2 separate regions of the Homo sapiens genome follow, and region 1 is linked to region 2. The links come from fine-mapping of genetic effects on gene expression. A gene starts in region 2. The other region holds a variant in brackets. All regions are shown on one strand. Distances are from middle to middle.

The links. PIP is the estimated chance that this variant, and not a neighbour inherited with it, causes the effect.
Region 1: its variant is the best candidate, but not a certain one, in a credible set for the expression of MAGI3 in whole blood (TOPMed, PIP 0.72).

Annotation. Positions count from the first base shown.
Region 1 is chr1:113,189,454-113,194,828 of GRCh38, forward strand. No RefSeq gene overlaps it. Among named protein-coding and RNA genes, the nearest start is that of LRIG2, 120 kb to the left of the region's middle. RefSeq lists an enhancer at 2,762-2,871. The variant C/T (reference allele first, on the strand shown) is at 2,651.
Region 2 is chr1:113,387,670-113,393,044 of GRCh38, forward strand. MAGI3 (membrane associated guanylate kinase, WW and PDZ domain containing 3) reads left to right here and starts at 2,846. Exons shown (of 21, transcript NM_001142782.2): 1 at 2,846-3,680. The coding sequence starts at 3,365. RefSeq lists silencers at 1,178-1,422, 2,412-2,461, 2,492-2,851, 3,262-3,391, 3,452-3,611 and enhancers at 3,292-3,791, 3,842-3,891.

The DNA.
Region 1 (5,375 bases), 200 kb before region 2:
CCTGGACTGGGAACCCATCCTCTGCTACCCAGACCTGGCCAATCTCTGTTAAGAATTCCATTGCAAATGTGGCTTCTCCCTTCCCCCTTCCCCCACTGTCCCCAAACACTGTTTCCATCTCTCCTATAATATTAACATATATTTATAAAAATAAATATTTGTATCAAGAACACATTTATACAAACAGATCTATTTAGGAATGCCTCCTATGTGCCAAGTCGCCCTTTCACATGACTGCCGTCTTGTCTTCGCTTCTGCAATTCTTGAAACCTGCACTCTCTGCCATAGTTTCCCCACTTCTTAGTCCTTCACAGCCTTGTCCATTCTTACCACTCTACTGAGAGAGTCCCAAAGGTTGCCATCGGCTTCTCAGCTGGCAGACAGGGCAGGCTCTCCTCAGTCCTGCCTCCTTCTGGTCCTGATAACCAGTCCCCTCCCTGTCACCTTCTGAGATGCAGCAACATTCCATCACTTCCCACAACCCTACCATTCTGCCTTTTCCTTTATTGGATTTTATTTTCCTCCCACATCCTAAAGGTGGTCATTTCTCAAAGTGATGTCCTTGAACTGATGTCATCCCTTCTCCTACCATAATTTCAGCTCTCCCTGTGGGCAGCTGCATCCCGAGTCTGTGTCTAGCTCTAACCTCCCCTTGGATTTCAGACCCTAATTCCAAGTTGCTTTCTAGACACCTCTTCCTGAGTCACTTCACCCCTAAAACCAACCTTCTCTCCTACGTGAAGAGTTATAAAACATGGCTTCTGCCCCCGGGAGCTCATAACTTAGTCAGAGAGACACACATGCAGATTTTGAAATGTTCTGAGAGCTAATTAACATGAAAGGTGATGTTATAATGAGAGTCATGCCACATGACAAAATGTTAAGGAGTGGCACTAATCACACTGTTCTTACTCACAGTAGAGAGAAGTTGTGGGCTCCATTGCCCAGGAATGGTCTTATAGAACCTGGGTCCCATCAGTGAGGAGGAACAGAAAGGGGTGTGCATTCCAGACATGCAGGGTAAGGAAGGACCTTTCAAAGAACATTCTTTTAACCTACATTCAGCCACGCCGGGAATGATGCTTCTTGACCTGAGGTAGAACTGCTCCCTTAGGGAGATTTTGGAGGCCCTTTTGTTGTTAATTGTTACAATGACTGGGGGATGCTAGCAGCATTTAGCGCCTGGAACTCAGAAATGATAAATGTCCTGCAATGAGCGGGTTAGTCCCATGTCCAGCCAGTAGTGCCTAGGTTGAAAAACAACACATGTGGGGTAATGGGACATTGACTCTTCCCTGTCGTCTCCATGCTCCCAAGAACTCCATTCTGGCTTGTGAAAAACTAGTAATGGAATTACTCGTATATGAAAATAACTAATGCCCGATAGACAAACCAAACAGTTGCCTAGGGCACCAGCAAACAGAGAGAAAGAAGGATAAGTTCAGCTGTAATGAGCTTATTCACAATTTTGCAGGCAGAAAATCTAGAAAGTTGCTTTTTAAAATTTTAGCATAAACTTTCATGTTAAACCAAAAAATAAAATTTTATTTTGAATTTCATGTGCTATAAAATTTTATTTTGAATTTCATGTGCGAGTCCCTGGAAACTTGTCAGTGCTTAGGGCAATAAAGACATTAATCAGGTTGTAGGAGTATCCCATAAAAAAGCTATAAATGTGTGATTGAGGAGTTGCTGGAAATATTCACGATGCTGACAAGGCTCATCTCAGGGAGGCAAGACTGAAAAGGAATGTAATTAGGAAATCTAATCGGTGGAGCTCTATGTTGTCTGGGGGAAGACTGTAAACAGATGATGAGAGACCAGTCACTGGTCTGTTGGTCAACAAATACTTATCCACTAACTACTGTGTCCCAGGCACTGGGCTGGGCACTGGGATACAGTGGAGAACAAGACAAGTCCCTTCCTTCAGTGTGTTTACATTCTGGAGTTGGGGAGGGAAAAACAGACAAAAATACCACAGACACAGACCCATTTATACACACCCAGACAGACACGCAGGTGATCACAGGTCAGCAGAAAGCCTAGAGAACAGTGAGTCAGAACCATTTTGCAAGTTTTTCCAGCCCTCTCAGGGGAGGTCAGTGGCCACTTGATGATGGGATCCCCAGGTCTCAGCAGGGTTGGTGAAAAGGAACCTTGAGGCTACCTACCTTCCCTTGTCCCTGCATACCCTGTCCTAGCCCAAGGCGCCGAACCTGGCAGCGGCATCCTGTGTGGGGCAGTGTGGTGGGCGGTGCCCAGCGCTAGGAAAATCCCCAGGGTCACAGCTGGGGAATCTGAGCCCTACTCAAATCTGGGTGGCTAGGAGCAGAACTTGACCAGGGGAAGGAGGCGTACGAAGATCCTGATTGCACACCAGGTAAACGGTTGGAGCGTGTGTTCTTGCCTTATTGGCTGTTGGGCTTGCGGGGGTGTGGTCTGATTTAAAGGAACTGGGAATTATTTTATGAACAATTCAGCCTGGTGTCAGAAGTGTGTGACTCAGAGTCCCAACAGGAAACAGATGTCACACTCATTAGAGTAACTCAAGGAGGGTGAATTTAACAAAGGTGTGGGTGAAGTCGTGGGAACCAGAAGGGATGTTGGGGTGTTTTTGCAGCCCGTAAGCTGAGCTGTATACCACCCCAGG[C/T]CCAAGTGAAAGGGGAGGGAGTGGACATTGAAACCAGGAAGTAAAAAAGTCATGTAGAGGAAGGTAGAGATGACAAGGTTACCTTGAGAGAGACTGAGGGGCACAGCCAGCCTTGGGCCTCCTCATGGGGAGGCAAGGTCCTTATGGGGGACCCTGTTCCTCTGCTCTGCAGTATTTGTGAGCTCCCCATTGGCCAAACCCAGTGAAAAGTCAGAGGACAGAGTGAGCAGAAAATAAGCAGGGCATGGTGACCAGTAGCCAAGGATGCAGGCAGTCCTGTAACACCCTCCATTGTAAACCAGGAACCCTGTCTCCCATGAGGTTAGCTAGCTTCAGGAAGAAAGAGGAACTATGCACCAGCCTGGCGTCTGCCCTGATGTGACTCTTATCTTGCCTACCTAACTCCATCAGGTACACAATGTTCCCCTTTGGAGCTGTCTACTTCTTTCTCCCCATGCCACACTACCTGTGGCCACCACCCTCTCTTGCCTGAATTTCTCTAACAACTTTGCCGTCTCATCCAGTCCTCTTTTTTTTTTTTGAGATGGAGTCTCACTCTGTCACCCAGACTAGAGTGCAGTGGTGCAATCTCGGCTCACCACAAGCTCCGCCTCCTGGGTTCACGCCTTTCTCCTGCCTCAGCCTCCTGAGTAGCTGGGATTACAGGGGCCCACCACCACGCCTGGCTAATTTTTGTATTTTTAATAGATATGGGGTTTCACTATGTTAGCCAGGATGGTCTCAATCTCCTGACCTTGTGATCCGCCTGCCTTAGCCTCCCAAAGTGCTGGGATTACAGGCGTGAGCCACCGCGCCCGGCCCATCCAGTCCTCTCTTGACCATGCAACCAGATCTTTCCAACGTGCTGGCCTGAGCCTATGATTTCCTTCCCTAACACCACCTCACCACAGCATCCAAATGAAATCTACACAGCTTACCATGGCTTATGAGGCCCTTCATGATCTGGCTCTGGTTTACATTTCCAGCCTCATTTCTTGCCAATTCTCATTCTCCCCTCAACAAATGCCCCTCCTCAAATCCATCCCACTATGGTCCAGCCATACAGAACTGCTCTCTGATCTCTCTCTGACCCCAGGGCCTTTGCACATGCTATTTCTCCTCCTGAAAGTCAGGAAGTCAATTCTAACGTAACTCTTTCTCATTCCTCATTCCTTTGTTGCTGGTTGGGGTAGGCAAGGGTTCTGTGCCATTCTTATATGCTCCCATAGCACCCTGGCCCTGCCCAAATCATAATTTTAAAAAATTAATTCAATAGATATTTACTGAGTACCTGTAATGCACCAAGCCCTTCCCACCTCAGGGCCTTCTCTCATGCTGTTCTTTCCACTTGCACGTTCATCCTTCTACTCTTCATCTGGGTAACTCTTACATATTCTTTGAGTCTCTGCTGAAACATTATTTCCTGCAAGAGGTCCCCACCCCTTTTCTCTCCCACAGCATCCTGTATGACTTCGTTTATTTGATGTCTGTCTGCTTCTCTCCACGTGGGAAGGGGCCAGGTCTGTTTTATCCATGATAGTGTGCCCATCCCTAGCTCAGAAATCTGGCATGCAGCAGGCACTGGTTACATATGTGGTAAAGGAGGGAGGCAATAGGGTTCTCCCATTAGACCATGACAAGGAATAAAGAATTGTATGTTCCAGGGGTGAACTCAGGTTTTGTGGGGCCTGAAGCTTAGACAATTTGAGGTTTTATTTATTTATTTTTTTGAGACGGAGTCTCACTCTGTCACCAGGCTGAAGTGCAGTGGCGCGATCTCGGCTCACTGCAACCTCCACCCTCCGAGTTCAAGCGATTCTTCTGCCTCACCCTCCCAAGTGACTGGGATTACAGGTGTCTGCCACCGTGCCCGGCTAATTTTTGTGTGTTTTTAGTAGAGATGGGTTTCACCATCTTGGCCAGGCAGGTCTTGAACTCCTGACCTCGTGATCCACCCCCCACTTGGCCTCCCAAAGTGCTGGGATTACAGGCATGAGCCACCACACCCGGCCGAGGGTTCTCTTTAAGAAAAACACAAAATTACAGAAACAAAATTAGGCAGGAAAGTGGACCTTTATGTAGATTGGGAAAATAAATAAATTGTAAAGCTTTTAAAGTGGAAAAATACTTCAAATATCACAAAATATAGAAAAATAATATCATGTTTTTCTTAGTTAACTGCCTAACACACTGCAATAAGTCTTTCTCCACATTTTTTGGCTGAATAATACTCTTATTGCCTCATCATATGTAATGATTTTGTAATATTTTCCATATAGAGAATGGAATGAGAATTAAGTCCTCTGGCATAATAAAAATTATATTTATGATTGATGGGATGCATAAACACATGTGACCACAGCCAGACATACTTGTTTGTAGGACCGCTACAGTTTGTATCCTACGAACACAGGAATTCTGATAAATTATATTTGTCATTTTAAAAAGGGGAAAAAAAGGAAAGCATGTACTTGTATCGCCGCATTACTCAATATATATATGCCTAATGCATATGACTAGGTATCAGTGAGAACTGGATTCTGCACTTACAATCTTACACATCCGATGATTGGAAGAATTTCCTACAGACTAGCTTTTGGCTCTATACAGTTCAAATCTTGTTTCTCCTCCATTACCCACATGCTTCCAGGGCCAGGTTGCATAGGACACTCGCAAATCTCATATGGTCTTTGGCCCGGCATTTGAGTGTCATAATGCCAGATAA
Region 2 (5,375 bases):
TACTTGACTCAAATAGCTTCATACAGTTCTCACAACAACTCAGGTAAACACTGTCATCAAACCCATTTTGTGGATGAGGAAATTGAGGATAGGCAAGGTTAAATAGCTTGCTCAAGATCACAGAGCTAGCAGTAGAAAAGCTGGGATTTGCAGTAAGTAGAAAAGCTGGGATTTGCAGTCTGATTTGCTCAAGCTCTGAACCACTGCAGTTTTCTGCCCAAGAATGAATACAACTTATTCATGGTTGAGGCATGTGGCAAACACTGTTGGATGCCTACTTAGCAACTATTTCCCCTTTTCTGCTCTCAGTCAGAACACTCATTTTGTTTAGGGGTGACTTGTGATCAATTTAATGAACTGTGGCCAATCCTATCTCTTTTTGCCAGTGACTGGTCTGATGTGGCATATGACCATTTTCTGGACAATAAGGAAGATTCTAAAGTCTGGGAAATATTTTTCTCCTTCATAAAAATGGGGGACAGCACTTCCTTTTCTTCCGTTCCTGCTCTGTGCAGTGACCTCTGTGGATGTGATGTCTGGAGCTATGGCAGCCACATTGCAATTAAGAGGTGACAAACCTGGAGACAAAAGCTCACATGCATGTGATGGCAGAGAGCAAACACAAAAAAGAGCTTGGGTCCTTGATGACATGATTGTACTGCTCAACTAACCCTGAAACTATCTGCACTTGAAATTTATATTGAAGATATAGTAAATGACCTCATGCTTTAAGCTACTGCCAAATATTCTGTTCCTTGAGGCCAAAGGCATTCTAACAGATGCAATCTAGACACAGAAAGATGTTTTCCCAGAGTTCCTGCAAAAACAGATGATGTGTAGGTTATGGAGATTTTATCCAGGAATCCATTAGTATAGGTAGTAGTTTAGAAAAAAAATACTCCAAGCTTTGTCTCAGATATGGTTAAATCTGAGCCATCCACATGGTGTCTGTGCTGAATATTTTCCCCTCAGATGCACTGTTTCCTTTTCTGAAACTGACTGATATGAACTATATCAAAAGCCTCCCTTGCCCTCTGGCGTCTGGTTGGACTTGGCCATTGACAAGCACCAGCAGGAGACTGGAGGAGGGTGGTGAGTTAGATATAAATCCCCCAGGTCCTTTGCTGGGTGTTTACTTAGGCTGACTGCATCCGTTGACTGAAGGTCACAGACTCCTGTCAGGTGGCCCTGTGTGTCTGGATTTTTCGGTAACTGTTCTTTCCCGATTGGACAGATCTAGGAGCTGTAGCCTCAGGGTTCCAGCTTCTCTTGTGGTTTCCCACACCCTGCCCACATCTTTGCAAAATGCCATTTGTTTCCTGCCAGGACCCTGACTGATACAATGGTGTCAACGAAATCACTGCAGCTATTGAAGCTTGGTCCAGTCTATCTGAGGTGTGGAGTTTTATAAGGGCTTTCACCTACTATTAAAGGGAGACAGGAGACTACACAAATAAATGTCATGCTGCAAAAGTGAAACAAAGATCATAGCTCAGAGAAAACACTTTCCACTTGAGGGCAAGAAATCAGAGAAAGCTACCTGGAAGAGCCGGCATTTGGGATGAGGACGGATAGGAGTTTTAAAAGAGATGAGATGAAGGGCATTCCAAAGACAGGGAAGAGTGTAAGTCAAGCCGGGGAAGAGAGAAAGCTCAAGTGAAATTTCTGAAAAATTAGAGCTGGAAGGGATCTACGATATCTTTTATTTAATGTTCGTTCTCCCTTCACCTCCTTTAACTGAGATTTGGCCAAGGTCAAACAGCAAGTAAGTAGCATGTCAGGACTCCAACCAGATCTGCTGGCTACCAGGTTAGTTCTTAATAATCCACCTTCTACCTCCACCCCACTCCCTCACCTCAGGCAGTCTGCTTACTTCTCAGTCTCTCCCACTAGACTGTAACCTCCTCAATAGCGGGGCTTCTGTTTTCTTCACCCTTGAATCCCAGTACCTAGCACAATATCTAACACAAAATCGTCATCGTCATCAGCAGCAGCAGCAGCAGCTACCAAACTTTAAGAGGCAACCACCCACTGTCAGGCACTATGCAGTTATTTTGTACATCTTCTGTAATCTTCACTTTTCACTGAGGACGCTGCGGCTCAGAGAGGTTGTCTAATTTGTCTTAGGTCATACAGCAGTGCCGGACTCTATTTTATAATATCTTTCATCAACCGGACTCCGAAGCCCTGCCTCAATGGGCGTTCAGTAACATCTGTTGAATGAACGAATGAACAAGCAATATCCACTCAATGCAAACTATCGGCTGTAACAGGCCACCCTAAAGGCCCCGGAACCTCGGCCGGCTCAGGACTCCGCACGTTGTCTTCCAATCTAAGCACACCGGCCCCTCTCTGCGCCCCGCACAGGCTCAGAGGCTCCGCCCGCGTCTCCGCCTAACTCGCCGGCCACGCCCCCACTTCGGGGAGCTCGGTCCCTCTCGGATTCGAGTTTTCCTCGGCTCCAGCCGCCGCGCAGAGGGCCTCTCCCGGCCCTGCGACCTACAGCCCCTTCCACTCCCCTGCCCCTCCTCTGCGCCCTCCCTCACTCTCCAAACTTCTTTTTTCCACCCTCTCTAAACTTCAGTCATTCTAGTGCCCGCCTCCTCCACTCGCACCGACCAACCAGTGGTCCCCATTCTCGTTGGCGGTCCGCCTCCTGCCCGCCGGGGGCCAATCCCTGGCGCGAGAGTCCAGGGCCGGGGCTCGTTCCCAAGCGCCCAGCCTGTGACGGCAGCGCGCCGGGCGCCGCGCGGCGGGAGGGGGCGGGGCTCTGGATGAGGGATGGGCGAGGGCCGGGGGAAGGGAAAAGGGAGGAGGAGGAGGTTGCGGCTGGTTTGAAAGCGGCAGTTTCCTGGCAGCTTGGGCAGGCGTTGGTCTCCGCGCTACAGCTCCGCAGCGGCCACGATCGATCCCGCGACGGGTCTACGCGCGCTTCTGCGCGCCCCCCACGGATTTTTCCCGTTCCCGGCTCTTCCCCCTTCACCTCCCCGCCCCCCCGCCTCAGCCTTTCCCGCCGCTCGGGCGCTGAGCCCAGGGACCAGCCGGCGGCAGTGACCCCGCCCGAAGCCCCTTCTGGAACCTCCTGGGGACAATTCCCTTTTCCTTTCTTCAGCCTAACCCGCGGTGGCCCTCGCGGAGTCCGGTCAGCCCCGGGGAGCGCAGCCGGGAGGGGCGTCCAAGGGGCGTCTCGCGTCTGGGAACGGCCGGGCCCCCAGCGGGCTGTGGTCGCGGGGTGGGGGCCGGAGCGGCGAGGCCCCCCTTACCGGGCTGCGCGGGCCGCCCAGGGCCCCCGGGCTGAGACGGGGCCGGAGCGGCGCCCCGGCCGCCCGCGCGGGGTCTCCCCCATGGTGCAGCGGGGTTCGGGATGTCGAAGACGCTGAAGAAGAAGAAGCACTGGCTCAGCAAGGTGCAGGAGTGCGCCGTGTCCTGGGCCGGGCCCCCGGGCGACTTCGGCGCGGAGATCCGCGGTGGCGCGGAGCGTGGCGAGTTCCCCTACCTGGGGCGGCTCCGCGAGGAGCCCGGCGGGGGCACCTGCTGCGTCGTCTCGGGCAAGGCGCCCAGCCCAGGCGATGTGCTGCTGGAGGTAAACGGGACGCCTGTCAGCGGGCTCACCAACCGGGACACCCTGGCTGTCATCCGCCACTTCCGCGAGCCCATCCGTCTCAAGACTGTGAAACCAGGTACGCCGGCCCTGCGTATCTGTCTCGGGGTGTTGGGGAGAGGGGCTTCAGGGTGGGCGTCCTGGGAGCGGCGGCACCTCCCCACCGCGTATTGTCCCGGGTAATCTTAGACCTCTAGGGTGTGCCAGACTCCTTGACGAGGGGGAGGGGTGGCGTTGGTGAGTCCCATTTTGCCGAAGGGAAAACTGAGCTCTGGCTTGGCGCGGTTGCTCTGCTAGCTGTGCTAGCTGTCACAGAATTGCGACTAGAAGCTGGGTTTCCTACATTTGTAGCTCCATCTCCCCCCGCAGACAAGAGTTTTTGACTAGAGAAGGCCAGCCTTTTCCTGTGTTGTGCAAAAAGGCCCTTAGGATTGTAACATTTTCTTTGGAACGATCTTACGCATCTTCTAACAGGGAAAAAGGGACTTTACTATAGAGGCACTTGGTGCCAAGGTTACCACCTGGTGTACCTGGAAGGGCTTAGCTGCTTCAGTGTTTCTTGCACTCTAGCAGACATCTCAGAGCTGACAGCCTAACTCTGTCAGTCCAGGTGGTTCAGGTGTCTGAGTACCGATGACGGTACAATATGTGATATGTGGCAGACTGGTGTGTTCTTGCAGGGAGCTGTTGAATAGAGTCTGGGTTTTGCAGGAAGACCTAGGTGCCTAGCGGAGTGAAAGCTTCTGTAACGCTTTTGATTTTACAGAATTTTGTTGAAGTGGTAGGTTAAAGGAGCCTCTGTTGCCCTGGTATCTTTTATGCTAGTAAAAATTGCTGCAAAGCACGTTATGTTTATGGCATACTCGTCAGTTTCAAAGCATTGATCAGAGACAGCATACAGTGAGATCTGATAGTATGTAGTAGTTCTTATGAATTTGTTATAGACAGCATTGTTGGTTTTGTTTCAGCATAGATAGAATGTGGTTCTGTCGTCTTAGATGTTTGTGGGAGAGAGAATTGTGATTGTAACATTATTAGAAACCAAACTGTTTTTCCTTAATGTGCTCTGCTGAGTATACGGTGCATCAAAATATAATGGGCTGGTTAATTGTTACCTGGGCTAGGTAGCAGTCCATCCCTTGATGGCAAAATGCTAGAAAATTCTGGATAAAAATTTAATATGTTATCTCCTTCTCATTTCTTTCTCAGCAGCTCGCTTTGGAAATATTAATATATCTTTAATAGTCCTTGAGCTTAATGGGGCTTGATGGTTTGTGGTGCAGTTTACATATGTCTGTGTATTGTGGATATGTATACACACAGACTCACATGCTCCTAAGGTCATAATTAAGATTTTCTTTCTATAGCGTATTCCATCGTATTCATTTTAAGTGTATGGGTTTATGTGGTGAGGTTTTCTTTTTATTGTTGTTAATTTTTTAAAACTTTGGCAGACTTTAAACAGCTTTTTCTGTATAGTTTTGAGAATTTGTAAATTTTTTTCTTAACTCTAACTTTTACAGCCATGTGTGAAAGGCAGAGGAAAGACTTTTGGGGCTGTAATTCAGCTAGTCAGGCACTGTCTGTAATATGCAAAAGGCTATATAGACAGCATTTACTAGTCTAGCTGCCAAATCTTAGTTCAAATCCCATGAGTTAGTGAATAGTGAGAACATCTGCATCATTTCTTTGTGTTTTGTTTTGATTCGTTAGGGCATAGATGAGAATATAACTTATTTTTAGAAATTTTAAAGTTGATATATTGACATGGAAG